Homo sapiens: one gene and its partners. The protein of the gene in region 1 interacts with the protein of each later gene in a pairwise test. Each region holds a gene or a part of one and is shown in the gene's direction. Other genes may lie near its edges.

Region 1 (4,691 bases):
TTTGAGGCCAGAAGTTCAAGACCAGCCTGGGCAACATAGTGAGACCCTGTCTCTACAAAAAAAAAAAAAAAATTAAATGTATACAGGCATAGTGGCATGCACCTGTAGTCCCAGTTGCTTGGGAGGCTGAGGTGGGAGGATTGCTTGAGCCCAGGAGTTCAAGGTTACAGTGAGCTATGATTGTGCCACTGCACTCCAGGCTGGGCAACCAAGGGAGACTCTGTCTCTGAAAACAAACAAAAGAAAAAAAAATAGGCTGCAGGAAAGTCTTCATTGTAGGAAGAGAAGGGACATTTTTATTTTTTGTTATCTGGCTGTGTGTTAAAATAGGCTTCATAATGAGTTAGATGTCAAACTTATACACAGAGGGGATAGCAATACACTTAACCAATAGCAGGTACCCATTCCAATTGGGGAGCCTTGGTTCTGATTGGTCGAAATATTTCAAATGTTGCCCCTGGTCAGCAACAGGGTCAGAAGTGAGTCCCCAAGGCCTAGTTCATGTTTTGTGAACAAAGATTCCACGTGCCTTTTAGGACGAGCAAGAGGAAGAAGAAGCAGCGAACCAGAAACTTGCCCTACAGAAAGCCAAGGAGGTGGCAGAAGTGAGTCCTCTGTCCGCGGCCAACATGTCTATAGCTGTGTAAGTGCCCCTAATCCCTGGGATGCTACCCTGGCTCCTGAACGTCCACACTATCCCAGGCACAGATTTGGGAAGCAGTGGGGGTGGTCCTTGACAGAACTGAGCTTTAGGAAGAGACACTTCTTGTCCTTCCACCCACTTTCACTCAATAAATATTTGGTTAGCAGCTGTTATGTACCCAGCACTGTTCTAACTTCTGGGGATACAGCATTAACAAGGAGGAAAAAAAAAATCCCACCTGTGTGTAGCCATTCTAGCAAGGGAAGGAGTCAATAAATTAGATAAATAAGTAAATTATATATTGTGTTAGAAGGCGATGGAACTACAGAGAAAGTAGGGGAGGGAAATAGCAAATGCTGGGAGTGAAGAGAGTTGTGATTTTAAACGAAGTTGTCAGGGAAGGCATCACCTAGAATAGGGGTCCCCAGTCCCGGGGCTGTGGACTGGTACCAGGCCGAGGCCTATTAGGAACGGGGCTGCACAGCAGGAGGTGAACAGTGAGCAAGCAAGCATTACCGCCTGAGCTCCACCTGCCGTCAGATCAGCAGGCAGCATTAGATTCTCATAGGAACACAAACACTATTGTGAACGGTGCATCTGAGGGATCTAGGTTGCGTGCTCCTTTTAAGAATCGAATGCCTGATGATCTCAGGTGAAACAGTTTCATCCCAAAACCACCCCCCACACCTAGGTCTGTGGAAAAACTGTCTTCCACAAAACTGGCCCCTGGTGCCAAAAAGGTTGGGGACTGCTCACCTAGAAGGTTACATGGCCTGAAGGAGGTGAGGGAGGAGCCACTGGGGGGCCTGGGGAAGGGCATCCCAGGCAGAGGGAACAGCATAGGCAATGGCCCTGAGGCAGGAACATGCCTGATGTGAAGGAGGCCTGTGTGACTAGAATCGAATAGTAAGTGTGAGGAGGTGAAGGCAAGGAGGTGACAAGCAGATTACACAGGGCCTTCTGGGTCAGGGGGGAGGACTTGGGCTTTTGCCCCTAGCCAGGTGGGAGCCATGGAGGGTTCTTGAGCAGAGGAGGCTGGGACCTGACTCAGATGCTCACAGACTCCTAGCATTCAGTGGGGAGTAGAGGGTGGAGAGCAGGAGTGGGAGGCTGAGATGTGGGTTGGTTCGCCTGGGTCATCCATCCAAGCTACAGTGCCTAGCAATGCTCTAAGTCCTGTGACCATGCCACTGCAGGAAAGAGCAACAGAAGAATCAAAAGCCAGCCAAGTCCGTGTGGGAGCAGCGGACCAGTGAGATGCGAAAGCAGAACTTGCTGGCCAGCCGGGAGGCCCTGTATAACGAAATGGACCCGGACGAGCGCTGGAAGGCTGCCTACACGCGGCACCTGCGGCCAGACATGAAGACGCACTTGGACCGGCCGCTGGTGGTGGACCCGCAGGAGAACCGCAACAACAACACCAACAAGAGCCGGGCGGCCGAGCCCACCGTGGACCAGCGCCTCGGCCAGCAGCGCGCCGAGGACTTCCTCAGGAAACAGGCCCGCTACCACGATCGGGCCCGGGACCCCAGCGGCTCGGCGGGCCTGGACGCACGGAGGCCCTGGGCGGGAAGCCAGGAGGCCGAGCTGAGCCGGGAGGGACCCTACGGCCGCGAGTCGGACCACCACGCCCGGGAGGGCAGCCTGGAGCAACCCGGGTTCTGGGAGGGCGAGGCCGAGCGAGGCAAGGCCGGGGACCCCCACCGGAGGCACGTGCACCGGCAGGGGGGCAGCAGGGAGAGCCGCAGCGGGTCCCCGCGCACGGGCGCGGACGGGGAGCATCGACGTCATCGCGCGCACCGCAGGCCCGGGGAGGAGGGTCCGGAGGACAAGGCGGAGCGGAGGGCGCGGCACCGCGAGGGCAGCCGGCCGGCCCGGGGCGGCGAGGGCGAGGGCGAGGGCCCCGACGGGGGCGAGCGCAGGAGAAGGCACCGGCATGGCGCTCCAGCCACGTACGAGGGGGACGCGCGGAGGGAGGACAAGGAGCGGAGGCATCGGAGGAGGAAGTAAGTGGAGGTGACCTCGAATCCGCAGAATGACGGTAACATTAATAATGACAACAGCCAAAGTAGCACGTGCTGTGTATTTGTTTATAAAAATATATTATAAAATGCTGTATTTGGCCAGGCGCAGTGGCTCACGCCTGTAATCCCAGCACTTTGGGAGGCCGAGGCGGATGGATCACGAGGTCAGGAGTTCAAGACCAGCCTGGCCAAGATGGTGAAACCCCACCTCTAATAAAAATACAAAAATTAGCCGGGCACGGTGGCAGGCGCCTGTAGCCCCAGCTACTCAGGAGGCTGAGGCAGGAGAATCGCCTGAAAACAGGGGGCGGAGGTTGCAATGAGCCGAGATCACACCACCGCACTCCAGCCTGGGCGACAGAGTGAGACTCTGTCTCAAAAAAAAAAAAAAAGTGCTGTATTTGGCCAGGAGCAGTGGCTCATGCCTGTAATCCCAGCACTTTGAGAGGCCGAGGCGGGCGGATCACTTGAGGTCAGGAGTTGGAGAACAGGCTGGCCAACATAGTGAAACCCCGTCTCTACTAAAAATACAAAAATTAGTGGTGGTGCCCACCTGTATTCCCACTACTCAGGAGGCTGAGGCGGGAGAATCAGTTGAACCTGGGAGGTGGAGGTAGGTTGCAGTGAGCTGAGATCGTGCCATCACACTCCAGCCTGGGCAACAGAGCAAGACTCTGTCTCAAAAAAAAAAAAATGCTGTATGTTTTTGTTTTTTTGACACAGGGTCTCGCCTGTTGCCCAGGCTGGAGTGCAGTGGCAGTCATAGCTCAGTGCAGCCTCTACCTCCCGGGCTCAAGCCATCCGCCTCAGCCTCACAAGTAGCTGGGACCACAGACATGTGCCACATGCCTGGCTAATTTTTGTAGAGACAGTGTTTTGTAGAGACAGGGTTTCACTGTGTTTCCCAGGCTGGTCTCAAACTCCTGAACTCAAGCATTCCGCCTGCCTTAGCCTCCCTAAAGTGCTGGGACTACAGGGTTGAGCCACCACACTCAGCCTAATTTTTTTACCTTTAGTAGAAATGAGGCCTGGCTCTGTTGCCCAGGCTGGTCCCCAACTCCTGGCCTCAAGCAATCATCCCACCTCAGTCTCCCAAAGTGTTCGGATTAGAGGCTTCACAGATGGGGAAACTGAGAGATTGAGTGAGCTCCTCAAGGTCATTCCTCTAACCAGTGTCCTTGAACCCAGGCTCTCTGGCACCAGAGGCCTTGAGCATTTCAGGGAAACTATTAAGAGAAGCCCCACTGTCGTCCAGAATTATATAGTCTTCTGTGTTCTTGCTGTGTGACTTTTGCAAAGTGACTTCATATCTCTGGGCCTCACACAATGGAAATAGTGGGATCTAATTGGGTCATTGCCAGGATTGAATGAGGTAATGTATGCAAAGGGCCTGGAAGAGCAGCTGACACATAATAAGTGCTCGGTAAATTTAGAGCATTTTTGGCCATTTTCAGCCAACTCTATTTACCTAATGCTATTCTTTGGAAGTTTGAAAAGCCACTCTGTTGGGAGGCCAAGGTGGGAGGATCACTTGATACCAGGAGTTGGAGACCAGTCTGGGCAATAGAGGCAGACCCCATCTCTATAAAATATAAAAAATTAAACAGATGTGGTGGCATGCACCTGCAGTCCCAACTACTTGGGAGGCTGAGGCAGGAGGGTCACTGGAGCCCAGGATGTCTAGGCTATGATGAGCTATGATTGCACCACTGCACTTCAGCCTGGGCGACAGAGCAAGGCTTTGTCTCAAAAAATAAAATAAAAAATAAAGAAAAAGAAAAGGCACTTTGGGCCGTTAGAATTGAAGGGAGAGCAGAGTTTCAAAGCTTTGGATGCAGCGGGATGTGGTGGCTCATGCCTGTAGTCCCAGCACTTTGGGAGGCCAAGGTGGGAGGATCCACTTGAGCCCCGGAGTTCAAGACCAGCCTGCGCAACATAGTGAGACCTCACCTTTTAAAAATAAATAAAAATGTTAGAAAGCTTTTGAGGCATCTTCCAGGCCAGCAACTTATCCATTCAGAACC
Region 2 (3,500 bases), on another chromosome or scaffold:
CCCATGCTATCTTATTGTTATTATTATCTTTTTATTTTTTATTTTTTGAGACAGGGTCTCACTCTGTCACCCAGGCTGGAGTGCAGTGACACAATGATAGCTCACTACAACCTTGAACTCCTGGGCTCAAGCAATCCTCCTGCCTTAGCCTCTGCACCCTGTCTCTGAGCCATTGCTCCTGGTTCCATGTTATTTTAATTGATACAGCTGCTACCTAAGAGATAGTGAGATATTATCCCTATTTTTCATACTTATTTTTTCTTTTATTAATAAGCTATGGTCGTCCATAGATATCCCCATTTTTCAGATGAAGAAATTGAATCTCAGCTGGGCGTGCTGGCTCACACCTATAATCCCAGCACTTTGGGAGGCTGAGGTGGAAGGATCATTTGAGCTCAGGAGTTTGAGACCAGCCTGGGCGACATAACAAAACCCCATCTCTACAAAAAATACAAAAATTAGCCAGGTGTGGTGGTGCACACTTGTGGTCCCAGCTACTCAGGAGGCTGAGGTGGGAGGATTGCTTGAGCTGACGGGGGCAGAGGTTGCAGTGAACCCAGAGTGCACCACTGCACTCCAGTCTGGGTGACACAGCGAGATCCTGTCACGAAAAAAAAAAAAAAAAAGACAAGAAATTGAATCTCAGATTAAGTAATTTGCCTAAGGTTTCCCAGCAAATTAAGTGGCAGAACAAGAATGTGAAGCCAAACAAACAAAACGCAAAAGGAATTTTCTTTTTTTCTTTCTTTTTTTTTTTTTTTTTTTTTGAGACAGAGTCTCGCTCTGTTGCCCAGGTGGAGTGCAGTGGCACACTCTCGGCTCACTGCAAGCTCCGCCTCCCGGGTTTACACCATTCTCCTGCCTCAGCCTCCCAAGTAGCTGGGACTACAGGCGACTGCCACCACGCCCGGCTAATTTTTTTTTTTGTATTTTTAGTAGAGAAGGGGTTTCACCGTGTTAGCCAGGATGGTCTTGATCTGACCTCGTCATCTACCCGCCTCGGCCTCTCAAAGTGCTGGGATTACAGGTGTGAGCCACCGTGCCCAGCCCAAAAGGAATTTAAAGCCAGATTTTTAAGCCTCCACATTTTTTGTTGTGTTTTGTTATACCATCATGAGTATTGCATATGATCCAAATATTACCACTTGTTTTATATATATGCATGTATTACTGGTAACTCTCTTTTTTCTCTGCAGGAAATGGACAGGCTACTAGCATGGTCCAACTGCAGGGTGGGAGATTCCTGATGGGAACAAATTCTCCAGACAGCAGAGATGGTGACGGGCCTGTGCGGGAGGCGACAGTGAAACCCTTTGCCATCGACATATTTCCTGTCACCAACAAAGATTTCAGGTACATCAGGTATTCTTCCAGGAGGAATGAAGACCCTCTCTAATCTCATTCTTTTTTCTTTCTTTTTTTTTTTTTTGTTTTTTGAGACTGACTCCCTCTGTCACCCAGGTGCTGGAGTGCAGTGGCGCAATCTCGCTCACTGCAACCTCCACCTCCCGGGTTCAAGCAATTCTCCTGCCTTCGCCTGCCGAGCAGCTGGAATTACAGGTGTTCACCACCACGCCCGGCTAATTTTTTTTTTTTTGTATTTTTTTAGTAGAGACGGGGTTTCTCCATGTTGGCCAGGCTGGGCTCGAACTCCTGACCTCAACTATCTGCCCACCTCAGCCTCCCAAAGTGCTGGGATTACAGGCATGAGCCACTGCACTTGGCCTCATTCTTAATATCTAAAGGAAAACTAACTTGTTCACTGTCACGTGTCATCTTTGCAGTGTACTATGGGATATGTTATTCAGATGAAGAACCTGAAATCCAAAGAGGTTTGACTGACTCTCTCAGTTAGTGGATGAGCTTGGCCTGGAACTCAAATCCCTGGGCTCTTGAGCCAGTGCATTTTCCATTACACTGGGCATAGCACTGAGAAATATAAGCAAACGCCAGTCACTCAACAGAAACCTCTTCTACATGGGGAAGGGATTGGGAGAAGGGACATCATAGTAGAGAGTCCTTTAAATTCCCCTTATAGGCCAGGTGTGCTGGCTCACACCTGCAATGTGAGCACTTTGGGAGGCCGAGGTGGGAGGATTGCTTGAGCTCAGGAGTCTGAGACCAGGCTGGTAACATAGGGAGACCCTATCTCTGCTAAAATAAATAAATAAGTAAATAAGTATATAAATATACATACACACACATATATATATAAATACATATATATAACAATCCATCTTACCCTGACAGTCTGCCCCCTGAAACTTACTAAACCATACCAAAGTATATGAAAATTCATTTTATTATTATTATTGTTATTGTTATTATTTTTTTGAGACAGGGTCTGGCTCTGTCACCCAGGCTGAAGTTCAGTGGTATGATCTCAGCTCGCTGCAGCCTCTGCGTCCCAGGCTCAAACCATCACCTGGGACTACAGGTGCGCACTATCACACCCAGCTTATTTTGTTTTGTATTTTTGGTAGAGACAGGGTTTTGCCCTGTTGCCCAGGCTGGTCTCGAACTCCTGGGCTCAAATGATCCTTCTGCCGTGGCCTCCCAAAATGCTGGGATTATAGGTGTGACCCACCATGCCTGGCCTTGAAAATCCATTTTATTTATTTGTATTTATTTATTTATTTAGAGACACAGTTTTCCTCTTGTTGCCTAGGCTGGAGTGCAATGGTGCGATCTCAGCTCACCACAACCTCCACCTCCTGGGTTCAAGCGATTCTCCTACCTCAGCCTCCTGAGTAGCTGGGATTACAGGCATGCACCACCACGCCCAGCTATTTTTTGTATTTTTAGTAGAGACAGGGTTTCTCCATGTTGGTCAGGCTGGTCTTGAACTCTTGACCTCAGGTGATCCACCTGCCTTGGCCTCCTGAAGTGTTGGGATTACAGCTGTGAGCCACCACGCCCGGCCAAAAATCCATTTTAAAAGCCCAATTTTTCACTTCTATTTGGTTCAGTGTTTTTCACCTCTTAAATGGAGTTAATAACAATAACACCTGTTACATCTATCTCTGATGGTTGTTGTGAGATGAGATATGTGATGAAGGGCTGGATGCAGTGGCTCACGTCTGTAATCCCAACAATTTGGGAGGCTGAGGTGGGAGGATCACTTGAGCCCAGGAGTTCGAGACCATCCTGGGCAACACAGACCCCCATCTCTACTAAAAATTAAAAAAAAAAAAATTAGCCCTTCATGGTAGCACACACTTGTAGTCTCAGCTATTAGGGAGGTTGAGGCAGGAGGATCACTTGAGTGTGGAAGGTTGAGGCTGTAGTGAGCCATGATTGCACCACTGCACTCCAGCCTGGGCAACAGAGAGACATCCTTTCTCAAAAAAAAGAAAAAAAAAAAAGATGTGCTGGAGACCTTTCAGAAAAGAGACACATTCCCCACCCTTAAATCTCCTGCTCCAGTGGCTTTATTCATGATCTCCAAAAACAGGAGATAACTCACATGATCTTCAGCTGGTAAGTGTATGAACAAAATA
Region 3 (4,145 bases), 9.5 Mb from region 1:
GGGGCCTGGGGTAGGGGACAGCAAGTGACCCCCCCTCCACAGCCCAGTCTGACCCACCCCTTCCGTGGCCGCAGGTGGTTCCACGGGAAGATCTCGGGCCAGGAGGCTGTCCAGCAGCTGCAGCCTCCCGAGGATGGGCTGTTCCTGGTGCGGGAGTCCGCGCGCCACCCCGGCGACTACGTCCTGTGCGTGAGCTTTGGCCGCGACGTCATCCACTACCGCGTGCTGCACCGCGACGGCCACCTCACAATCGATGAGGCCGTGTTCTTCTGCAACCTCATGGACATGGTGGAGGTGCTGCCACCCAGAGGCCCCACCCCGTCCCTGCAGTGGGGCAGCCCAGGGACTCCGGAGACTCCCCTACGTAGAGATAGAGGGGCGGGTCACCTGACCTCCATCCCTTCCCCAGCAGCTGGGCAGACACCATCCCTACCTCCTGTGCTGATCACCCGGGACCCCCTGAGCTCTGTGCTTCCCCAATGTGGAGATGAAGGGGGTATTCCCCAGGGCCCCCCAGGCACCCCCAGGCCCCCATCCCATCTCAGATGGGCAGACAGGAGGACCCCCACAGTAGGATTCCCCTTAATGCAGAAATAGGGGGGCTGATCCCTATGGACTGCCCAATCTACAGGTGGCCTGAGTCAGCCTGGTTCTACCTCCAGGGACTAGAGTGACTCCTCTGGGGACCCCCCAGGACCCCCCAAGTTGATACCAATCCAGAGGACTCCCCCTCCTTTTGGCTTGCCTCCTTTCCCGTTCCTATGGAAACCAGCCTTTCTCCTCCTCCCCGGTCCCACCCACCCCACCCAGAGGCCACCCGGGAACGGAACAGGATGCTGGGGTTCCCCTCCCTGGGGCTGGGCTCATGGCTGTCCCACCATCCTGCAGCATTACAGCAAGGACAAGGGCGCTATCTGCACCAAGCTGGTGAGACCAAAGCGGAAACACGGGACCAAGTCGGCCGAGGAGGAGCTGGCCAGGGGTAGGGGACGCCCAGGAGGGCAGACCCCCTTCCCTACCCACGTTAGCCCAGTCCGGGAGGAAGGGCCCTGGGGCCCCGCACCTCTGAGGCCAGATCACCCAAGCCTGTCTCCATGCCCAGCTATGGGATAGAAGACCTGGGCTGCCTCGGGGGTGCCCACAGACACAGATCAGTCCTTTATTCAATAGGTCCCCAGCTTCGCCACTCATCTGTCACCATCATCCACCATCTGAGCCAGAAACCTGGCCCCGAACCTCCACCCACCCCATCCTCCAGCATTCCCTCCTTGGCCAGGTTCCCAAGACCTGGTGAATCTTCTCCCCTCCCCTCCCCACAGCCCAGCCTCAGGCCCTCCCATCAGACCGCCTCCTTCCCAGAGGGCGAGTCCCCCTTCCAGCCCAGGCCTTGAGTGCAGCCTCAAGGTTATCTTTCTATCATGAAACCATGCCTCCAGGGAGAGAGGCCCAGCAGCTCCACCACCTTCCAGAACCTGCCTGCATGGCCTGAGCCACCTTTCCAGCCTCATCTGCAAAGCCCTTCCTCCACACATCCACCCCCTCCCAGGTCAACTGTGATCATCGTTTTCTTCATGCCTCTGAGCCATTGTATATTCTGTTCCCTTCACCTGAAATGCTTTTCCAGCCCCTAAGTAGTGAAATCCTCAATATTTAAGGTCAAAAGCAAATGCCTCCTCTGACCCCATGTCTGTCTCCTTGAAAGTATCTCTCTGCTGGGGAAGTCTGTACCCATCAGGGATGGCATCCAGGTGGAGACTAGCATCACCCTGGCCAATGATCTCTTAAGACCGTGGCATTTGGAGGGGGCACTTTCTGGAGGGAGAAGAGAACGTCTGCAGAACCGACCAGAGGGCAGTGGAGGGGACAACACAGGAGTGCTTGGGAGAAGGGTCAGGGAGGCTAGAGCCCTGGAATATTCTGGAACCTTTATGGGTCTCCATGTTGTGTTTTTTTGCTCTGTGTGTGTTTCTGGGGTGGTCAGAGGTAAAGAACTGTGTAGGGAAGAGCCCAGAGGGTATTTGGAGGGACAAGAGAGCCAAAGAGAAAAGGGCAGCTCTTATCTCTGAGAACTGAAGTGTTTCCTGGCACTACCCCTTGGGCCTGACTGGGAGTTCCTGGAGGGCAAGTGTGGGGTCTGAGGGTCTCAGCCAGGCAGGCCCCCAGCTTTGACTATTCACACCACTATCCCTCCTGTAAGCCCCTTTTTGTTCAGGTCAACCTGAGATAGTTCTGTTGCTTGCAACAACAATAATTGGTACCAGGAGTGGGGTGTCTCTGATATGTCCTAGGGGCATTGCCAGGCCCAGCAGCCACTCAAATGTGTATCCACAGCTGCAGCACTGTGAGAGACATCACCTAGTCTCTCACCAAGTAGAACCCCCAATGGGAGGATTTAGGGGGCCCATTACCCCTCTGACTGGGTCTTCACTCCACAGCGGGCTGGTTACTGAACCTGCAGCATTTGACATTGGGAGCACAGATCGGAGAGGGAGAGTTTGGAGGTGAGTGGCGGACTGGGTTGGGGGTGCTGAAGGAAGATGGGAGGTGCGTATTGAGGCTTTGGAGTCACAGAGCTGAATTCAAACCCATACTTAACCACCTACTAGTTGTGCAGCTGAAGACGTGCAAATCCTCTGAGCCTCAGTTTCCCCCTCTGGAACAGGGGGTAATGGCAGCTGTCATGAGGAGTAAGTGAACTCAAGCAGGCGCTCAGTCAACGTTAGTGACTTCTTCACACTGCCAGGGTCTTGTATGGTCAGTCCCACTGTTTGGAATGTTTGAAACACCATTCCCTGAAATTATTATTCTGGAAGGCTCTGGGGTTTAGATCAGGGGTCGGCAGACTCTCTGTAAAAGGCCAGATTGTAAATATTTCCTGCTTTGTGGGCCAGGTAGCTGCTGTCACCACTACTGAATCCTGCCCTTGTGGAGTGAAAGCGACCACAGACAATATGTAAACATATGGGCGTGGCCATGAAAACTATGACCCAGAAATTTGAATTTTGTGTAATGCTCACATGTCCTGAAACAGCACTCATCTTTTGATTTGTTTTTACAACCATTTAAACATGCAAAAACCAGCCAGGCACGGTGGCTCATGCCTGGAATCCCAGCACTTTGGTAGGTCGGGGCAGGAGGATCCCTTGAGCTCAGGAGTTCAGGTGCAGCCTGGACAACGTAGCGAGACCCCCATCTGTACAAAAAAAAAGCCAGGCACAGTGGAGCATGCCTGTAGTCCCAGCTACTCAGGAGGCCGGGATGGGAGGATCCCTTGAACCCAGGAATTTGAACCTGCAGTGAGCTGTGATCACGCCACTGCACTCTACCTGGGTGAGAGAGTGAGACCCTGTATCAATATTTTAAAAATAAAAATGTTGGCCGGGCACAGTGGCTCATGCCTGTAATCCCAGCACTTTGGGAGGCTGAGGCGGGCGGATCACGAGGTCATGAGATCGAGACCATCCTGGCTAACATGGTGAAACCCCATCTCTACTAAAAAAAAAAAAAAAAAAAATTAGCCGGGCGTGGTGGTGGGCGCCTGTAGTCCCAGCTACTTGGGAGGCTGAGGCAGGAGAATGGCGTGACCTGGGAGGCAGAGCTTGCAGTGAGCAGAGATGGCGCCACTGCACTCCAGCCTGGGCGACAGAGCAAGACTCCGTCTCAAATAAATAATTAATTAATTAAAAATAAAAATGCAAAAAACATTTTGAGCTGAAGGGTCTTGCAAAAAGAGGTGATAGGTAGATTTGGCCCCGAGGGGGTGGGGGTTCACAGACCCCTGGCTTAGATGGTTCTCTCTTTGTTTTTGTTTTTTGTGGGGTTTTTTTTGAGATGGAGTTTCGCTCTGTCACCCAGGCTGGAGTGCAATGGCACAATCTTGGCTCACTGCAACCTCTGCCTCCCGGGTTCAAGTGATTCTCCTGCCTCAGCCTCCCGAGTAGCTGGGATTACAGGCATGTGCCACCACACCTGGCTAGTTTTGTATTTTCATTAGAGACAGGGTTTCTCCATGTTAGTCGGGCTGGTCTTGAACTCCTGACCTCAGGTGATCCGCCTGCCTCAGCCTCCCAAAGTGCTGGGATTACAGGCGTGAGCCACCGCGCCAGAGCCAGATGGTTCTCTGATCTTGGGTCTGGAGCTTGCAA
Region 4 (4,546 bases), on another chromosome or scaffold:
AATACAATTAAATTTACATATGGTAATTTAGACATTTAATAGGATATTGCATAGGTAGAATACTTTGTCAGTACTTAGTTACTACCTATATGTATTTTTGTGTTACTTTTCAGTGATTTAAAGAAATCTAACAGAAATCTGCTTAAATTTGTTTTAAATAGTGAATATCCTGCTTGCTATGGAATGAATAAACAGGTAAATTTGATATGAAAAAGCACCTCAGTATGATTCTTTAAAGTATAAGCTTGTAAGTAGCTAGGATAATGTTAAATTGATTGTTTGGAATATCCAAACCAAGCACAATGAAGAAAGTAGAAATGATATTTTTAATTGAGCAAAGATTGTATAGATGGTTCATTTGGTCACCCATTTTGAATAATATATGGAAAGTTAAAAAATGCTTCTCAGATACAAAGGAATAAAGCTAAGATGAAGCTTAACGTGAGGGATTACTTACTGTGGAATTGCATTTCAAACTGGGCTGAGGTGGGATGGTGGTGGTAGATAAGAGGCCAGCTAGAGTAAACATAAGCTTTGTAGTTTTATTATTTTAAGAGTCAGAGTCTTGTTCTGCTGGCCAGGCTGGAGTGCAGTGGTCTGATAATGGTTCACTGCAGCTTCTAACTCCTGGGCTCAAGCTGTCTTCCTGCCTCAGCCTCCTGAGAGCTGGGACTACAGGTGTGTGCCACCTTGTCTGGCTAAATTTTTTATTATTTGTAGAGACAGAGTCTCACTGTGTTGCCCAGGCTGTTCTCAAATTTCTGGCCTCAAGCAATCCTCACTCCTTGGTCTCCCAGAATGTGTTGGGATTACAGGTGTGAGCCACTGTGCCCAGCCTTGTATTTTGATTTTTAAATTAATTTATATGAATATTTCCTTTTACCCTATAATGTATCAGGGCTTAATATTTTTAAACTTCATTATAAAAAGTTGATTACAGAAAGTGGTATCTTCTAGTTGGGAGCCATCTTTGCACATCTCTCTCCAACTCTGCCTTTAGTGATATGTCAATAACAAATTGGCCATGGCAGGAGTATTTTACACCATGGAAAGTGATAAATGCAGCAAATCAAGGAATTCCCCTCCTGTTGTCCCCTCAGAAAGCCAGCTTCCCAGCACCTCATCAATTTCAAATATAAAAAAAGAATAGTAAATTTTCATGTACACATCACTCAGCTTCAGTAATTGTCGTCTCATAGCCAGTTTTTCCTCTCCTATCCTCAAGGTATACCAGGTACACTGGAGGTGTATTCTCTAGCCTGATACCCAGTGGCATTTGTCTTAAAGCCAAACATTTTTGTCTAGAAATTATCTAAAAAAATGTAGATCATGTCTAGAAAGTCAATCCCACAACCAAGAGATAGGTAAAAATCATGTTAGGAGTGCATTTCTATTAATTTACTGAGATCACTGTTAAGAGCAGTGATTCTTGATCCATATATCACCTGTTAAGTAGTGACCTTGCTGCCTCTGTTTTTGCAGTAAATATTAGCTGTTGTTTATTGAGCTGTATTAGATACTATATGATGTATAATTATGTATGAATTAACTATCATTTAATTCTGATAATCCTAGTAAATGTACTACAGGTTGAGTATTCCTAATCTGGTAATCTGAAATTTCACATGCTCCGAAAATCACAAACTTTTTGAGTGCCAACATGATGCTCAAAGAAAATGCTCATTGCAGCATTTAAGATTTCAGATTTTTGGGTTAGGAATGTTGAACTGGTATAATGCAAATACTCCAAAATCTGAAGAAATCCAAAGTCTTAAATACTTCTGGTCCCAAGCACTTCAGATAAAGGATACTCAATTTGTATTCCTATTTTGGAGATAAGAGATGGAGACTTACAGGCTGGGTTGGTTGGATTGGTTGCCTGTTTTTTGTTGTTGTTGTAGTGGAAGCTAGGAATGGTTTTTCACATTTTTTAAGTGTACTTAAGTCTTACATGGTTACATAGTTACCTGTATAATAGTCTTGAATTTGCCTAAACCCACGAAGAATAACAGTATTTGCTATCTGGCCCTTTAAGAAGTTTGCCAACCTAGGCTGGTCTAAATAATGAAAATTTTACATTAATGAAAGTATTTTCATGGATAGTATTCCTTTTGTTCTTAGAATATTTCTTTGAGGTAGGCAGAATGTATGTTTTATTCCAGAATTACTGTTTTACGCAGTTTTAACTTTACAAACAAGGCAAATAATGCTCAAGAGAAGTTGCTATTTAGTAAGCAGCAAAATAATAACTCTGTTGTTTTCCCCCGAAGTACAACCAAATTTAAATACTGAGTGAGGAAGCAGTAAATATCCAATGATATCTTGAGTTTCTTAAGAATATCAATTTAGGGTTTTAAAATGTTTTAAATATTTTACAAAAAAGTACTGAAACAACTTTGTCACTTAGGACTATTCTCAGGAAGGAGTGCTTTGTTAAGAACAGAGCCATGATTGACAAAGTCAGAAGCTTTCTAGAAAGTCTTTATTTTTCTGTTATGAATAATTGCATTTTCTAATTATCCCAAATGATTTTATAAATTCCGTAACTTTTATATGCCTGCCTGGGATCCATGAAATAAAAGTATTCCTTACCAAAAGAGAAGCATCAGATACACTGAAAGGCTCAATGTTTTATATTTTCAGAAATAAAAGTGACTGTATACCCTTTTATTAACTATATGGTAGCTTGGTAAAATTTTTATAGAATTTTTAATGATCTATGGTGTTCTATGATGAGGCAACATTCCACCAAATTAGCCTTCCAAAAGTTGCAGTATCATGTATAATTATGACAGCAGTTTTGTTTTAAAACCAGAGTCAGATTGAATGTAGCTTTTTTACAGCTGAAATTTATGCCTTATGTGTATTCATAAAACATTGATAACTTAGTGTCACATTATCTTTACTCTTTGGTTATACTCTTCTTGAAAAGTAAATTTACTTATCAAATGATAAAGTTTCAGGGAAAGTTAAAAAAAGTTTTTTTTCTTAAGGCTTCATGGAATAGAATTCCATGAATCATAATGACTACGTAAGACCCTTTTCTGGTAATGAAAGCATGGAGTCTTAACCAAAAAGCTAAGCAGAATTGTTAGATCTTTTGGTTTCTGTCATAATGTACTATTGGAACTTCAAGTAGATATAGTACATTAATATGAAATACTTTGAAATACACCATCTTTAAAAAAAAAGGCACTTACACAAAAATCATGTAACACTAGGTAGGATGTTGAAATGACTGGTATGCAATATTTTTTAAAGCCTTCATTTTTGGTCAGCATAAGTTTCCTTTAATTATTTTTCTGTTTCCAGTTGGACTTCACTTTGAGGCTTAACATAGCAAAGTGAGTATAAAGTTCTACAATTTAGTCATTGTGGATTTCAAGTCATTTATGATGAAAATGGAAATGTGTAGTTTACTTAAGAAAATTTTCTTCTTCTGTAACATCTAACTCGTCATCCTCATCATCTTCTGCTTGTTGATCCTTTCTTAGTCGACAAGTGGATACCTGTTAAAAGTTAACACACTTTTTAAAATAAAAATACTAACTTAAAAAAATTTTACATTCTTGGTATATTTTTATGCTATTAAAGGGCACACAACAAATATTTCAAAAAAATGTCCATGTCATAATTTTTAGTAGTGAAAATTCCCTATGAATTTTAAGCTCAGAAGCCAGTTTTTTCATTCATCACATTTTTTTGAATAAAAATGTGTAATTAGCCATTTGATTTTAGTTGGATAGCCATCAATACTTCAAAAACATTAAAAGTATAGACTCTATATTATGAATATTAAAAATAAATTTTGGGTCACAGAAACAGCATTTGAGAATCATAAAATGGATGGCAAAAATAGAAGGATATTTCAGCTAGGCAGTGGGACAGAAATACTGATGTAAAAGTAGTGTGATTTAAATGGAATGAGTTGAGAATCTGAATTCACCAGTTTTAAGTTGCCTGACTGCCGCCACGTGGGGCATATTGCTTAAAACTTCTCTTGAGGGTGATTATATCTAACCCAGGGGACATTTGGGAATGTCTAGAGACACTGTTGTTTGTCAGTATTGGGGCTGTGTGTTTATGTGTGCTACTGGCATGTTGTAGGTAGAGGCGGGGGATGCTAATATCTGCTTGATGTCGTCACAATATACAGGACAGTATTCCGTCCCCTTCTTCCTCCCTGGTGGGCCCAATTATTTGTCCCAAAGTCAGCAGTGCTGAGGTTGAGAAACCCTGGGATAATGCATTCTGAAGTGCTATACAAGTGTTAGCTAAGGTGACATTATTAGTTGTAGTCAAAACTTTATATGGACTATAAAAGTAAATTTATGGAATTTATGTTCAAGGCACTTAATGCCGGAATAAAAAAAATACAATTGGGTTGGGGGAGAGATACATACATATAAAACAAAATAAATGCTTACAGGAGAATCAAATGAAAATAGAAAGTATGGTATCAAATTTACCTAAAAGTTGTATCTTGAAAATAAGTTTGTTGAATTTTATATTCTGAAGGCTAGATATGAAAAGGGCATAGCTCTCT
Region 5 (3,939 bases), on another chromosome or scaffold:
CCCTGCCAGCCCAACCCCTGCCATGGGGCGGCGCCCTGCCGTGTGCTGCCCGAGGGTGGTGCTCAGTGCGAGTGCCCCCTGGGGCGTGAGGGCACCTTCTGCCAGACAGGTCGGGGGCGTGGGGCTCTCGGGGCAGGGGGGGGGGGGGGGTTGAACGTTTGGGCGGGTACAGGTTCCAGGTAGCATTGCAGTTAGGATGCGGCTCAGTCTAGTCTGGGTTTTGAGTTAGGATCCACACACGGCTGGCATGGGGTGCAGGAGGCCCCGGGGGTCAGGACTGAGGCCTTGGTGACTCTCCCTACAGCCTCGGGGCAGGACGGCTCTGGGCCCTTCCTGGCTGACTTCAACGGCTTCTCCCACCTGGAGCTGAGAGGCCTGCACACCTTTGCACGGGACCTGGGGTCGGTGGGGCAGGAGCAGGGGGAAGGGCCGGCCCCCACCTCCGTCTCTCCTGTGGGGAGGGGACAGCAAAGACACCCCGACTCCCCATGACCCCAGGGAGAAGATGGCGCTGGAGGTCGTGTTCCTGGCACGAGGCCCCAGCGGCCTCCTGCTCTACAACGGGCAGAAGACGGACGGCAAGGGGGACTTCGTGTCGCTGGCACTGCGGGACCGCCGCCTGGAGTTCCGCTACGACCTGGGCAAGGGGGCAGCGGTCATCAGGTGGGCCGGCAAGGGTGGCTCTGGGAGGCCTGGGGCACTGGCCCGGGGCCGGGGCACCAGCAGGTCGCTCAGGCCCTGGGTGGTCGCGTGGCCGGTGGTGGACAGAGCCCACTCACGCTGCCCCTCCTCACCAGGAGCAGGGAGCCAGTCACCCTGGGAGCCTGGACCAGGGTCTCACTGGAGCGAAACGGCCGCAAGGGTGCCCTGCGTGTGGGCGACGGCCCCCGTGTGTTGGGGGAGTCCCCGGTGAGTGCTCTGGGCCGCGAGGGGACTCCCGCTGCTGCCTGCTCTTCCTCCTCGGGCGGCAGCCCCGCCCCTGCCGGCGCTCACGGAGCTGTTTTTCTGTCCTGTTCTCTTGGCCGCCTGCCCTGTCCTCTGCCTCCTCTGCCTCCCTGCTCTCTGCTCTCGCTCTGCAACCCCACCCGCTCTTCGGAGGCCAGAAATCCCGCAAGGTACTGTCGGCCTCTCATCCGCTCACCGTCTCTGGCGCCTCAACCCCTAGGGTAGCTCCTCCCCCACTAAGGACCCTGCCATTTCTGTGTGATTAACGCTGCCCCCTAGATAGGCAATGGGCGGGTGGGGCGGGTGCGTGCAGGTGCCTGGGCCCTGGGTCTGCACCGTGGGTGGGCTCTGCACAGCCACTTACCTGGCGTCCCCGCAGGTTCCGCACACCGTCCTCAACCTGAAGGAGCCGCTCTACGTAGGGGGCGCTCCCGACTTCAGCAAGCTGGCCCGTGCTGCTGCCGTGTCCTCTGGCTTCGACGGTGCCATCCAGCTGGTATGTGGGGGCGGGGCGTCCCAGCAGGGCCTCCGGGGCGGGCGGGGTGGCAGGCGGGACAAGGCCCTCACCCTGCCCTGCAGGTCTCCCTCGGAGGCCGCCAGCTGCTGACCCCGGAGCACGTGCTGCGGCAGGTGGACGTCACGTCCTTTGCAGGTCACCCCTGCACCCGGGCCTCAGGCCACCCCTGCCTCAATGGGGCCTCCTGCGTCCCGAGGGAGGCTGCCTATGTGTGCCTGTGTCCCGGGGGATTCTCAGGACCGCACTGCGAGAAGGGTGAGCCTGGCACAGGGCAGGGGGCGGAGGCCGGATGGGCCCGGAGCCCACGAGGCCCCACCCTCACCTGCCTATCTCACAGGGCTGGTGGAGAAGTCAGCGGGGGACGTGGATACCTTGGCCTTTGACGGGCGGACCTTTGTCGAGTACCTCAACGCTGTGACCGAGAGGTAACGTGCCATCCTCTGCTGGCTGTCGGTTCCATCTGTGCCCTCGGGGCGGGACACCGGACCCCCACACCAGGAGGGCCCAGGAGGGGACGGCCCGGTGCTGCCACCTCTGTCCTCCCGCCTCTCTCTCACCTCCCGGTCCTCCCGCCTCTCACTGTCTGTCTCTTTGTTTCCAAGCGAACTGGCCAATGAGATCCCCGTGTGAGTAGAGCTCGGCGCCCCCCGCTCCCTCTCACTCCCACTCCTCCATCCTTCCTGGTGGGGAGCAGAGTCCGGAGCCCCCGGGGAACTTTCCATCCCTTGTGGCGGAGGATGGGGGTCCGGCGCTATTTGGCTGCAAGAGGCCGTTTCCTGCCTCAGAAGTGCAGTCGCCCCTCCCAGGGCACAGGCCGAGGGTCGCCCCACAGCCAACCCCCACCACTGAGGCTGTACACACCTGTGCGCATATGCATGCATGTCTGTGTCCGTGTGCACTTCCGCGTGTGTGAACATGCAGCTGTGTCTGTGCGTGTCTATGTATATGGAGTGGATGTGCAAGTGTGTGTGAATATCCAGCTGTGTGTGTGCATGGGTCCATGTATATGTGTGTGTGTATATGTGGGGGGGACATGTAGATATGCGTGTGTGACTATGCGGCCGTGTGTGTGCATGGCTCCATGTATGTGTGTGTATATGAGGGAGACATGCAGGTATGTGTCCGTGTGTGTGTGTGTGCATATGGGTCCATGTATGTGTGTGTATATGAGGGAGACACGCAGGTGTGTGTCTGAGTGTGTGCGCACATGGGTCCATGTATGTGTGTGTATAGGTGAGGGAGACATGCATGTGTGTGTCCGTGTGTGTGCATGGGTCCATGTGTGTATAGTGTGTACACATGGGTCCATGTATGTGTGTGTATATGAGGGAGACACGCAGGTGTGTGTCCGAGTGTGTGTGCATGGGTCCATGTGTGTATAGTGTGTGCACATGGGTCCATGTATGTGTGTGTATATGAGGGAGACACGCAGGTGTGTGTCCGAGTGTGTGTCCATGGGTCCATGTATGTGTGTGTATATGTGGGGGAGACAGGTGTGTGTCCGAGTGTGTGCATGGGTCCGTGTATATGCGTGTATATATGGGGGGATATGTAGATGTGTGTGTGTATGAACAGGTGTAAGTGGGGAGCACTCAGGTGTGTCTGTGTGTGTTCGTGTACACGTGTGTATGTGTGTGAACATGGAGGGGTGTGTGTGTCCGTGTGTAGGTTTGCGTGCATGCACACATGCATGTGTGTACTGGGGCATCCAAGCCCCTGGTCTCCACTCCATACCACCCTACGCCTACCTCCTTGATCTCTGCGCCCAGCCTTGGCTGTGCTCCCCTGCTGTCTGCACGTGGGTGTCTGCACGTGGGTGTCTGCATGTGGGTGTCTGTGCCCTCAAGTGTCTCGTGTCTGCACGTGGGTGTCTGCACCCTCACGTGTCTCGTGTCCGCACAAGCATGTGTAGGTGTCCCTGCTGGGCTCTTTGGTGGGCGGCCAGTGATCCTCGAGGTCACGCATGTCTTCTGTGGGTGCCTGCTCCTTGCACCCCACAGTGTTGAGATGGGTTTGCATTGGCCCCGCCTGTCCCCTGCTCACCCGCCTCCCTCTCTTCCTGCTTCTAAGCCCCGAAACTCTGGATTCCGGGGCCCTTCACAGGTGAGCACGTGGCAGCAGTGCCTGCAGACCCCTGGCTGGCCCATCTGTCCTCCCGCCCGTCTCTCTGATCTCTCTCTGCCAGGCTGCCCCTGTCTCCATCCCTCTTCTCCCTCCCACTGTCGGTGTCTGCCCACCAGCCACCCCTGGGTCCCGTCACAGCCCTTGTGGCCTCCGCAGCTGGGGCCCTTGTCCTCCCGCCTCCCCCACCCTGTCCTGTTGCCACCTTCCTAGAGGCCCTGACCTGCCCTCTGCCCTCCAGCGAGAAGGCACTGCAGAGCAACCACTTTGAACTGAGCCTGCGCACTGAGGCCACGCAGGGGCTGGTGCTCTGGAGTGGCAAGGCCACGGAGCGGGCAGACTATGTGGCACTGGCC
Region 6 (4,691 bases), about 29 Mb from region 1:
TTTCACCCAGGCTAGAGTGCAGTGGTGCAATCTCAGCTCATTGCAACCTCTGCCTCCCTGGTTTCCATCATCCTCCCACCTCAGCCTCCTGAGTAGCTGAGACTACAAGCATGTGCTATCATACCTGGCTAATTTTTTTTTTAGAGATGGGGTTTTAACCATGTTGCCCAGGCTAGTCTTGAACTCCTGAGCTCAAGCAATCCACTCACCTTGGCTTCTCAAAGTGTTGGGATTCTAGGCGTGAGCCACCGTGCCTGGTTGGGCTTTTGGGTTTTTTTTTTTTTTTTTTTTTTTTTGATACAGGGCTTACTCTGTCACCCAGGCTAGAGTATAATGGCGCAATCATAGTTCACTGCAGCCTTGAACTCCTGAGCTCAAGTGATCCTCCTGCCTCAGCCTCCTGAGTAACTGTAACTATAGGCACACACCACCATGCCTGGCTAATTTTAAAAAAATTTTAAAGACGGGGGTCTTACTATGTTGCCCAGACTGGTCTCGAACTCCTGGGCTCAAGCGGCACTCCTGCCTCAGCCTCCTGAAGCACTGGGATTACAGGCATGAGTCACTGCGTCTGTTTTCTCTTGGTTCTAATAGTGATTGCAGTAATAACTAGAATGCCAGGAGCGCCTGCCACAGAGCTGGATGCTGTGCTGTGTAGACAGTGGTGACAGCATAGATATGAAAGGCTTTGCAAGACTGTGCTGGGGCCTCAGTGGGGTACAGACTTAAGAGGAAGACAGATTCAGAGACATTAAATGTCCTAGCTGGGCACAGTGGCTCATGCCAGCACTTTGAGAGGCTGAGGCGGGCAGATCACTTAAGGTCAGGAGTTCGAGACCAGCCTGGCCAACATGGTGAAACCCCTTCTCTACTAAAAATACAAAAATTAGTTGGGTGTGGTGGCGGACACCTGTAATCCCAACTACTCGGGAGGCTGAGGCAGGAGAATCGCTTGAACCCGGGAGGCAGAGGTTGCAGTGAGCCGATATCACACCACTGCACTCCAGCCTGGGCAACAGAGCGAGACTCTGTCTCAAAAAAAAAAAAAAAAAAAAAAGTCTCACCCCAGATCAGGTGGTCAGTTAGGCTTGGTGCCTGGAGTGACCCTGGTCTGATCTCAGAACTTGAGTGGTTTCCACTAAGCCACAGGAATCATAGCCGTTATCTATCCAGCCACACATTCATTCAGCACACAGTCATTGAGCACCTAGTATATGGCAAGCACCGTGCAGGTTGCTGGGGACACAGTAGGGAACAAAGCAGGCAAATGTTCTGTCTTTAGGAGTTTGCATTCTCATGGAGGCATCAGAAATGAACAAACAAGTCAGATGCTCGTGTGTTAGACAGCGAGGAGCGCTAAGGAAAGTTAAGTAGGAAGCGGGGGCTAGGGCTGTTGGGGAGTGGGAATGGTAGACGCAGGACACAGTGGCCAGGGAAGGCCTAGGTGAGAAGGAGGCTCTTGAGCAAAGATCTGAAGGAGGCAAGGGGGCTTGACAAGCTGACAAGTGACAGGAGAACCATGCAGGCAGAGGGTCCGCCAGTGCAAAGGCCCCAGGGTGGGAGGGCGCCTGGCACAGTATAGAAGAAGCATCCAGGCAGGCAGGCGAGGCTGGCTGACCCTGCGCCGAGTGCCATGCACATGATCTCAGTGGTCCTGTGAGCGAGCCGTGGTTACTCCCTGTGTGCAGAGCTCATGGGTTAAGTCTGTGTGCTCAGGCTCAGTGAGGTTAAGTCACTAGTCCAAGGCCACACAGCTAACAAGGAGGTAGAGCCAGAATGCAGCCGCGTTCTTCACTGCTGTGCCTCAGAGTGCCAGAGGCCTCAGTATCAGGGTGCTCAGGTCACTAGGGTGGCACCAGGGGCAGCAGTGCTGGAGTGCCAGGTCCTGGCAAGGTCTACACTGTGGCAGAGAAGGTCCGGGGGGTCACAGGGAAGTGACTGGGGCAGTGGGGGTGAGGCCCAGGGCAATGGCTACTTAGCAGTGGGTATAGAGTATTCGTCACTGCTGCTTGGGGGACAGGCTGGCACCGCACTCAGCCCTGATGGTCACCGCCTCTAACCCTGCCCGCAGTGCGCCAAGTGCCGGGAATCATTTCACGGGAGTCCGCTGGGCGGCCAGCAGTGCTACCGCCTCATCTCGGTGGAGCAGGAGTGCTGCCTGGACCCCACGTCCCAGACCAACTGCTTCCATGAGCCCAAACGCCGGGCGCTAGGCCCCGGCCGCACTGTCCTCTTTGGCGTGCAGCCCAAATTCACCAACGTGGACATCCGCCTGACGCTGGACGTGACCTTCGGGGCCGTGGACCTCTATGTCTCCACCTCCTATGACACCTTCGTGGTCCGTGTGGCCCCTGACACTGGCGTCCATACTGTACACATCCAGCCACCCCCAGCCCCACCACCTCCACCACCCCCTGCAGATGGTGGGCCCCGGGGGGCTGGGGATCCAGGAGGAGCAGGGGCCAGCAGTGGGCCGGGCGCCCCAGCAGAGCCACGGGTACGGGAGGTATGGCCGCGGGGCCTGATTACCTACGTGACGGTGACGGAGCCGTCGGCAGTGCTGGTGGTCCGCGGCGTGCGGGACCGGCTGGTCATCACCTACCCACACGAGCACCATGCCCTCAAGTCGAGCCGCTTCTACCTGCTGCTGCTGGGCGTGGGAGACCCAAGTGGGCCCGGCGCCAACGGCTCAGCCGACTCGCAGGGCCTGCTCTTCTTCCGGCAGGACCAGGCCCACATTGACCTGTTTGTCTTCTTCTCCGTCTTCTTCTCCTGCTTCTTCCTCTTCCTCTCACTCTGTGTGCTCCTCTGGAAGGCCAAGCAGGCTCTGGACCAGCGGCAGGAGCAGCGCCGGCACTTGCAGGAGATGACCAAGATGGCCAGCCGCCCCTTCGCCAAGGTCACCGTCTGCTTCCCACCTGACCCTACTGCCCCGGCCTCCGCCTGGAAGCCGGCTGGGCTCCCACCTCCCGCCTTCCGCCGCTCTGAGCCCTTCCTGGCACCCCTGCTGCTGACAGGGGCCGGTGGGCCCTGGGGACCCATGGGAGGGGGCTGCTGCCCACCAGCCATCCCCGCCACCACTGCTGGGCTGCGAGCTGGGCCCATCACTCTCGAGCCCACAGAAGATGGCATGGCTGGCGTGGCCACACTGCTGCTCCAGCTGCCTGGCGGGCCCCATGCACCCAACGGCGCCTGCCTGGGGTCAGCCCTCGTCACACTGCGGCACAGGCTGCACGAGTACTGTGGGGGTGGTGGGGGTGCTGGGGGCAGTGGGCATGGGACTGGTGCGGGCCGGAAGGGACTGTTGAGCCAGGACAACCTCACCAGCATGTCCCTCTGACATGCCCAGGGTTCTCATCCACAGCAGCTGGGTCACCTGATAGGGCCGCCCTGGACTTGGGGTCCCTCCACCTGGGGGCCCCTGGACACTGTCTACTTGGAGACCACTGGCCCCCTTCCCCCAGGGTTGCCCAGATGGGGCCTCCTTTGTTCTGCATTCAGCAGCTATTTATCGAGTACCTACTCTGTCAGGCACTGTCATAGGCGTGGGGCAAAGCAGGAACCAAGAGACGAGGTTCCCTGATCTCATGGGACTTAGGTTCTGGTGAAGGGAGACAATCAGTGCACATGCACACACCCCACACGCATACACACATGAACACATGCACATGTGCACACACAAGTAAGATGGCTTCAGAGAGGGAGAAGCACTGTGAGGCCTCCAGAGGATGTGGCAGTGAGGGACGATGGGGTGAAGTCAGCTGGGCATTCAAAGAAGCTAGACTGAGAACGCCTGAGAAGAACCAGCTACGGGAAGAGCTTTGGGAAGCAAAGGCAGAGGCCCTGGGGTGGGAGCAGGCTTGTTTTATTGGAAGGACCAGAAAACTGGTAAGTGTGACCCAGATCAAGTGTGAGGAGATGAGGCTGGGGATAGTCAGGGGCTGGATCACCCAGGGCCTTGTGGGCCCCACATAGGGTTTTGGGTTTTATTCTCAGGGCAATGGGAAGCTGTTGGATGGTTTGATGAAGGGGAGTGACAGGATCCGATGTACCTATTTAAGAATTTAAGAGGGTCGGGTGCGGTGGCTCATGCCTATAATCCTAGCACTTTGAGAGGCCAAGGTGGGCTGATCACAAGGTCAAGAGTTCGTGACCAGCCTGGCCAATATGGTGAAACCCCATGTCTACTAAAAATACAAAAATTAGCTGGGCATGGTGGCACACACTTGTAGTCCGAGCTACTCGGGAGGCTGAGGCAGAAGAATCGCTTGAACCCAGGAGGCGGAGGTTGCAGTGAGCTCAGATTGCGTCACTGCACTCCAACCTGGGTGACAGAGCGAGACTCCACCTCAAAAAAAAAAAAAAAATTTAAGAGGTCACTCAGTTGTGCTGTGGAGAATGGACCGGAGGGACAAGAGGGGCAGCAGGGATGGTGGGCTGGAGTAGGGTGCTGGCAATGAGGGAGTCTGGCTCAGATGTGGGATGTGTATGGAAGAATATAAATGATGGTGTGGATGTCAGGGTGAGGGAGGAGACAAAACCACGATGACCCCTAGCTTTGTGGCCTGAACTGTGGGTGGCTGAGGGGATCGTTAATTGAATGGGGCAGACTGAGGCTTGTGAGGAAGATCAGAGTCTGGTTCTTGACATGAGATGCCCTTCAGACATCTCTTCACTCAGGTCCAACTAGG
Region 7 (4,691 bases), on another chromosome or scaffold:
CCCCTTTCTATTGAGTTGACTCTTTTGTTTAATTCATTAGAAATTAAATTTTGTATAATTTCCTTTTTCTTTTGTTTAATCTGAATCGCATGCTTTTTCTCTGCATGATACCTAAATCTTCCAGTTATCCTAGCAGGGGGTAAAAAAAAAATCTCCTTTCTGTGGTATTCCTTCAGGAATTTGTGCTTTTGTTTTTTGGCGTCTCTTCTTTCTTCTCCTCTCTCTCTCTTTCCTTTCGTTACAGTGCATCATGACGGTAAACATTTCTTGGTTATTTAGAAACAGCCCATGGGCCCAGCGCTCAGCAGTGTCCAACGGGTCTTTTTGCTTTCAGATCACTGGGTCGGGGTCTGCTGCTGACCTCTTTACCAAAACAGCCAGCCCGCTCACCACCTCGCGAGGACGTTCCCAGGAGTACGACTCAGGAAATGACACGTCCTCGCCACCCTCCACGCAAACCAGCTCAGCCAGGTCTCGGGGCCAGGAGAAGGGGAGCCCCAGTGGGGGCTTGAGCAAGAGCCGGGAGCTCAACAGTGGCAACACCTCTGATTCAGGGAACTCCTTCACCACCTCCTCACCCCAGAACAAGGGGGCCATGTTGGAGAATCTCTCCCCCACCAGCAGGGGCAGAGAGTCAAGGTCAGTGCACCACACAGGGTCGGGGGTAGACGGTCTCCCACCTTAGCTCCACCTTCTCATGCTCTCATCCCAGCCTCCCCCACTCCACCCCCAAGATTATTTTATTTGTAAGAGAGATGAAACTCAACTCAGACTGGCTTGTTTTAAAACACTAGTGGCACTAGCTTCAGGTACAGCTGGATTCAGGGGTTCAAAAATATGTTGCTGGAAATCCGTCTTTCTCATTACATCTCTTATTCTGCTTCCTCATCCTACTGGCCTTATTCTCAAGCAGATCCTCCCAAAGCATTGTCAAATATGCCAAGCAGCTAACATTCTATTGGTTTAGCCAGCCAACAGGAAAACAATGCTTCTTTCTCAAAGATTTCAGCCAAACACCAAGGCAGGTGCTTATTGGTTCTGTTTGGCCCAGCTTAGGTCATCTGCCCATCACTGTCCCAGGGGATGCTATGCTGTTGGCCAGAATGTGTCAGATGCCATCACTAGGGCTAATGAGTCGAACCTTCCCACACTCCTCTACAGGAAAAGCCAGGTTATTGGTATCAGGAGAGATGGAGGCTAGGCAGGCAAAAAAACAGATGACAATTTTACCAGTAATCTTAGAAGGAAGTCGAACATTGACCAGGCGTGGTGGCTCACACCTGTAATCCCAGCACTTTGGGAGGCCGAGGCGGGTGGATCACCTGAGGTCAGGAGTTCGAGACCGGCGTGACCAACATGGAGAAACCCTGTCTCTACTAGAAATACAAAATTAGCCGGGTGTGGTGGTACATGCCTGTAATCCCAGCTACTCGGGAGGCTGAGGCAGGAAAATTGCTTGAACCCTGGAGGCGGAGGTGGCAGTGAGCTGAGATTGTACCATTGCACTCCAGCCTGGGCAACAAGAGTGAAACTCCATCTCAAAAGAAAAAAAAAATGAAAGAAAGTCTAACATTAAATTAATTGTAAGTCATTTAAGAACATATCACAGGCCAGGTGCGGTGGCTCACGCCTGTAATCCCAGCACTTTGGGAGGCCGAGGCGGGTGGATCACGAGGTCAGGAGATCGAGACCATCCTGGCTAACACAGTGAAACCCCGTCTCTACTAAAAATACAAAAATTTAGCCAGGCATAGTGGCGGGCGCCTGTAGTCCCAGCTACTTGGGAGGCTGAGGCAGGAGAATGGCATAAACCTGGGAGGTGGAGCTTGCAGTGAGCCGAGATTGCGCCAGTGCACTCCAGCCTGGGTGACAGAGCCAGACTCCATCTCAAAAAAAAAAAAGAACATATCACAGTATTTACCCAAATGAATTGAAAACTTATCTCTACATAAAAACCTGCACTTGGATGTTACAACAGCTTTATTTGTAATTGCTAAAACTTGGAAGCAACCAGAATATCCTTCAGTACGTGAATGAATACATAAATTATGATACGTCCAGACAATGGAATGCTATTCAGTGCTCGGAAGGTATGAGGTACCACGCTATGAAAAGACATGGAGGAAATGTAAATGCATATTACTAAGTGAAAGAAGCCAATGTGAAAAGGTCACACACTGCATGGCTCCAACTGTATGACATTCTGGAAAAGGCAAAACTATGGAGAAAGTACAAAGATAAGTGGTTGCCAGAGGGTGAGGGGACAGAGGGATGAATAGGCAGAGCACAGAGGATTTTTAGGGCAATGGAACTACTCTGTGTGACACTACAATGGTGGATAACTGTCATTATACATTTGTCCAAATCCATAGAATGTATAACACCAAGAGGGTACTCTGATGTAAACTATAGACTCTGGGTGATAATGATGTGTCAATGGAGGTTCATCGATTGTAGCAAATGGACCACGTTGGTGGAGGATGCTGATAGTGGGGAATAAGGCTGTGCGTGTGTAGCAGCAAGAAGTATATGGGAGCTCCCTGTGCTTTCCATTCAATCATGCTATGAAACTAAAACTGCTCTAAAAAATAAAGTTTATTAATTATAGATACAGATATACCATAGTATAATTTATCAACATATCAGAGAACATTGAGATTTCTCCATTTTTTTACCCATCTTAACACACTCACTAGATGCAGTTTTCCTGCAGAAAACTCTTCCACACAGATGCATATGAGCCAGTTGTAATTCTACTTCGTCATCCGCTTAACTCTCTCACTCAAGAAATCACAACAAAATGCTAATCACTGAGGTTACTGTCATCATAATAGCTACTAAAATTTACTGATCACTTAGTCTGTACCATTCATTCTGTTGTTTATTCCTCAACTTGTTTATCAGGCAAGTCCTCTCTGCCAGACACTCAGCCTGGTGCTGGGGATTTAAAAATGGAACAGTCCTTTTTCTCAGGAGCTTATAATTAATGAGGCAGATGCACAGTTGCGGGATGGGTGGAAAAGCTTTGCTGGTGCCCTCTGTCATGCTAACAGTGAGGTTTTTCTACTTCTGAGGGTGGGAGTTTGCCTTTGTTCCATATAGCCAAAATTTTCAAAAGATGACTAACGCCTTAGCACTGAAGCAGCTAACAGCTTCTTCAAAGACAGAGCACTCTTTGTCCCTAACACATACCCCATTTCAGTCCTGGACAAACAGCTTGACATCCACATGCAGAACTGCCTTCCCATTTGCCTGCCCCAGGTCATCCCTGGCCTCAGCTCACACCCAAGCTTGACTGAGAACCTGAGCTGGGCCAGAGCCAATGTCAGTGTCTCCAAGAACAGGCAGTGAAGTTCCCAGAAGGGAGGAGGAGGACACATGTTTACTGATATACAGCAGTGCTATTATGCAGGAAAAATTGAAATAGCAATAACAACAACAATAATAACGGCAGTTCATATTCGTTGAGCCCAAATCACATGCTAGGTACACTGCCAAATGCTTTCCAGAAATAATCTTCCCGAGCTCCTCAAAACCTTTATAGGACAGTACTATTTGTAACCCTTTTTTACCTGATGGGGAAACTGAGGCTCAGAGTGGTTGAGAAACTCAGTTAATAAGTGGCAGCACCAGAATTCAAATACAAATATGTCCCCCAAACAGGAACTAAAGCCTGAGAGACATCTAGCAGTTACCTGTTTAATTTGATCTCCATGGACAGCCAAATTAAGTAATTTAGACCCAGCCTTTCACTTTGAAATATAAATGATGGTTGAGTCCATGACTGTTTATGTCATGCCACTTATGAGCAGAGAGGGCTCAATAAATATGGGCTGAGTGGAAGAGACATCAGCTCTAAATCAAAGGAACCATAGACACTGAAGGTAGGGAGCTGGTGAGGTGGGAGGGGTGGGGACTCTGGAGCTGCACAGATCAAGGTTTGGGGCTCTGGGTGGTTTTGAGGAAATAACAAACCCTTCTGAGACTTCTCTGTAAATCTGGGGGTAATAATAGCATTGGCAGCTGGGCGCAGTGGCTCATGCCTGTAATCCCAGCACTTTGGGAGGCCAAGGCAGGTGGATCACGAGGTCAAGAGATCAAAGCCATCCTGGCCAACATGGTGAAACCCCATTTCTACTAAAAATGCAAAAACTAGCTGAGTGTGGTGGTGCGCACCTGCAGTCCCAGCCACTCGGGAGGCTGAGGCAGGAGAATCGCTTGAACCTGGGAGGCGGAGGTTGCAGTCAGCCAAGATCACGTCACTGCACTCCAGCCTGGCGACAGAGCGAGACTGTCTCAAAAAATAAATAAATAATGATGTCGGCTTCAGAAGGTTGTTGGGAATGAAATGATGCTTGTGAAATTCTCAGAACATTGAAAAGGTCCCCAGGGAGCTGTCTCCAGGGAGCTCAATATCTGGGACAGAAGAGACAGCCTACAAGTATAAGACTAAGTAAGCCATATAGGGATAGGCAAAACATAGAACTAAGGTCTGTGGTAACACACTGGAGGTCGCCCAACCCAGACAGGGGACGGGGGTGTCAAGGAAGGTTTTCCAGAAAGGGTGAGGTCAAGCTAAAGCCAGAATCATAAGTAGGAGTTGCCAGATGAAGAGGGAATGGAGAGGGTTTGCAGACAGCCAGAATGTTCTGAGGCCTGGAGACAAGGAAGAGAATAGGGATATTTCAGGA

The links.
Region 2: the proteins of CACNA1A (region 1) and SUMF2 interact in a two-hybrid assay, tested with the Homo sapiens proteins (one study listed by BioGRID and IntAct).
Region 3: the proteins of CACNA1A (region 1) and MATK interact in a two-hybrid assay, tested with the Homo sapiens proteins (one study listed by BioGRID and IntAct).
Region 4: the proteins of CACNA1A (region 1) and RBM12B interact in a two-hybrid assay, tested with the Homo sapiens proteins (one study listed by BioGRID and IntAct).
Region 5: the proteins of CACNA1A (region 1) and AGRN interact in a two-hybrid assay, tested with the Homo sapiens proteins (one study listed by BioGRID).
Region 6: the proteins of CACNA1A (region 1) and MEGF8 interact in a two-hybrid assay, tested with the Homo sapiens proteins (one study listed by BioGRID and IntAct).
Region 7: the proteins of CACNA1A (region 1) and SRRM4 interact in a two-hybrid assay, tested with the Homo sapiens proteins (one study listed by BioGRID and IntAct).

Annotation. Positions count from the first base shown.
Region 1 is NC_000019.10:13,296,502-13,301,192, reverse strand, and holds part of CACNA1A (voltage-dependent P/Q-type calcium channel subunit alpha-1A), read left to right. Parts: intron 1-536; coding exon 537-643; intron 644-1,839; coding exon 1,840-2,649; intron 2,650-4,691.
Region 2 is NC_000007.14:56,067,286-56,070,785, forward strand, and holds part of SUMF2 (inactive C-alpha-formylglycine-generating enzyme 2 isoform b precursor), read left to right. Parts: intron 1-1,196; coding exon 1,197-1,353; coding exon of another isoform or gene 1,354-1,362; intron 1,363-3,500. UniProt on the Homo sapiens protein: Lacks formylglycine generating activity and is unable to convert newly synthesized inactive sulfatases to their active form. Inhibits the activation of sulfatases by SUMF1.
Region 3 is NC_000019.10:3,779,963-3,784,107, reverse strand, and holds part of MATK (megakaryocyte-associated tyrosine-protein kinase), read left to right. Parts: intron 1-74; coding exon 75-294; intron 295-888; coding exon 889-982; intron 983-2,435; coding exon 2,436-2,501; intron 2,502-4,145.
Region 4 is NC_000008.11:93,727,168-93,731,713, reverse strand, and holds the end of RBM12B (RNA-binding protein 12B), read left to right. Parts: 3' UTR 1-3,416; coding exon of another isoform or gene 3,417-3,509; 3' UTR 3,510-3,559; downstream 3,560-4,546. Other genes in the region: CIBAR1 (CBY1-interacting BAR domain-containing protein 1), read right to left, coding at 3,417-3,509.
Region 5 is NC_000001.11:1,049,929-1,053,867, forward strand, and holds part of AGRN (agrin isoform 2 precursor), read left to right. Parts: coding exon 1-109; intron 110-304; coding exon 305-401; intron 402-498; coding exon 499-663; intron 664-797; coding exon 798-909; intron 910-1,103; coding exon of another isoform or gene 1,104-1,115; intron 1,116-1,324; coding exon 1,325-1,441; intron 1,442-1,524; coding exon 1,525-1,717; intron 1,718-1,799; coding exon 1,800-1,887; intron 1,888-2,064; coding exon of another isoform or gene 2,065-2,088; intron 2,089-3,532; coding exon of another isoform or gene 3,533-3,565; intron 3,566-3,824; coding exon 3,825-3,939. UniProt on the Homo sapiens protein: Isoform 1, isoform 4 and isoform 5: neuron-specific (z+) isoforms that contain C-terminal insertions of 8-19 AA are potent activators of AChR clustering.
Region 6 is NC_000019.10:42,373,436-42,378,126, forward strand, and holds part of MEGF8 (multiple epidermal growth factor-like domains protein 8 isoform 1 precursor), read left to right. Parts: intron 1-2,071; coding exon 2,072-3,340; 3' UTR 3,341-4,691. UniProt on the Homo sapiens protein: Acts as a negative regulator of hedgehog signaling.
Region 7 is NC_000012.12:119,145,047-119,149,737, forward strand, and holds part of SRRM4 (serine/arginine repetitive matrix protein 4), read left to right. Parts: intron 1-334; coding exon 335-639; intron 640-4,691. UniProt on the Homo sapiens protein: Splicing factor specifically required for neural cell differentiation.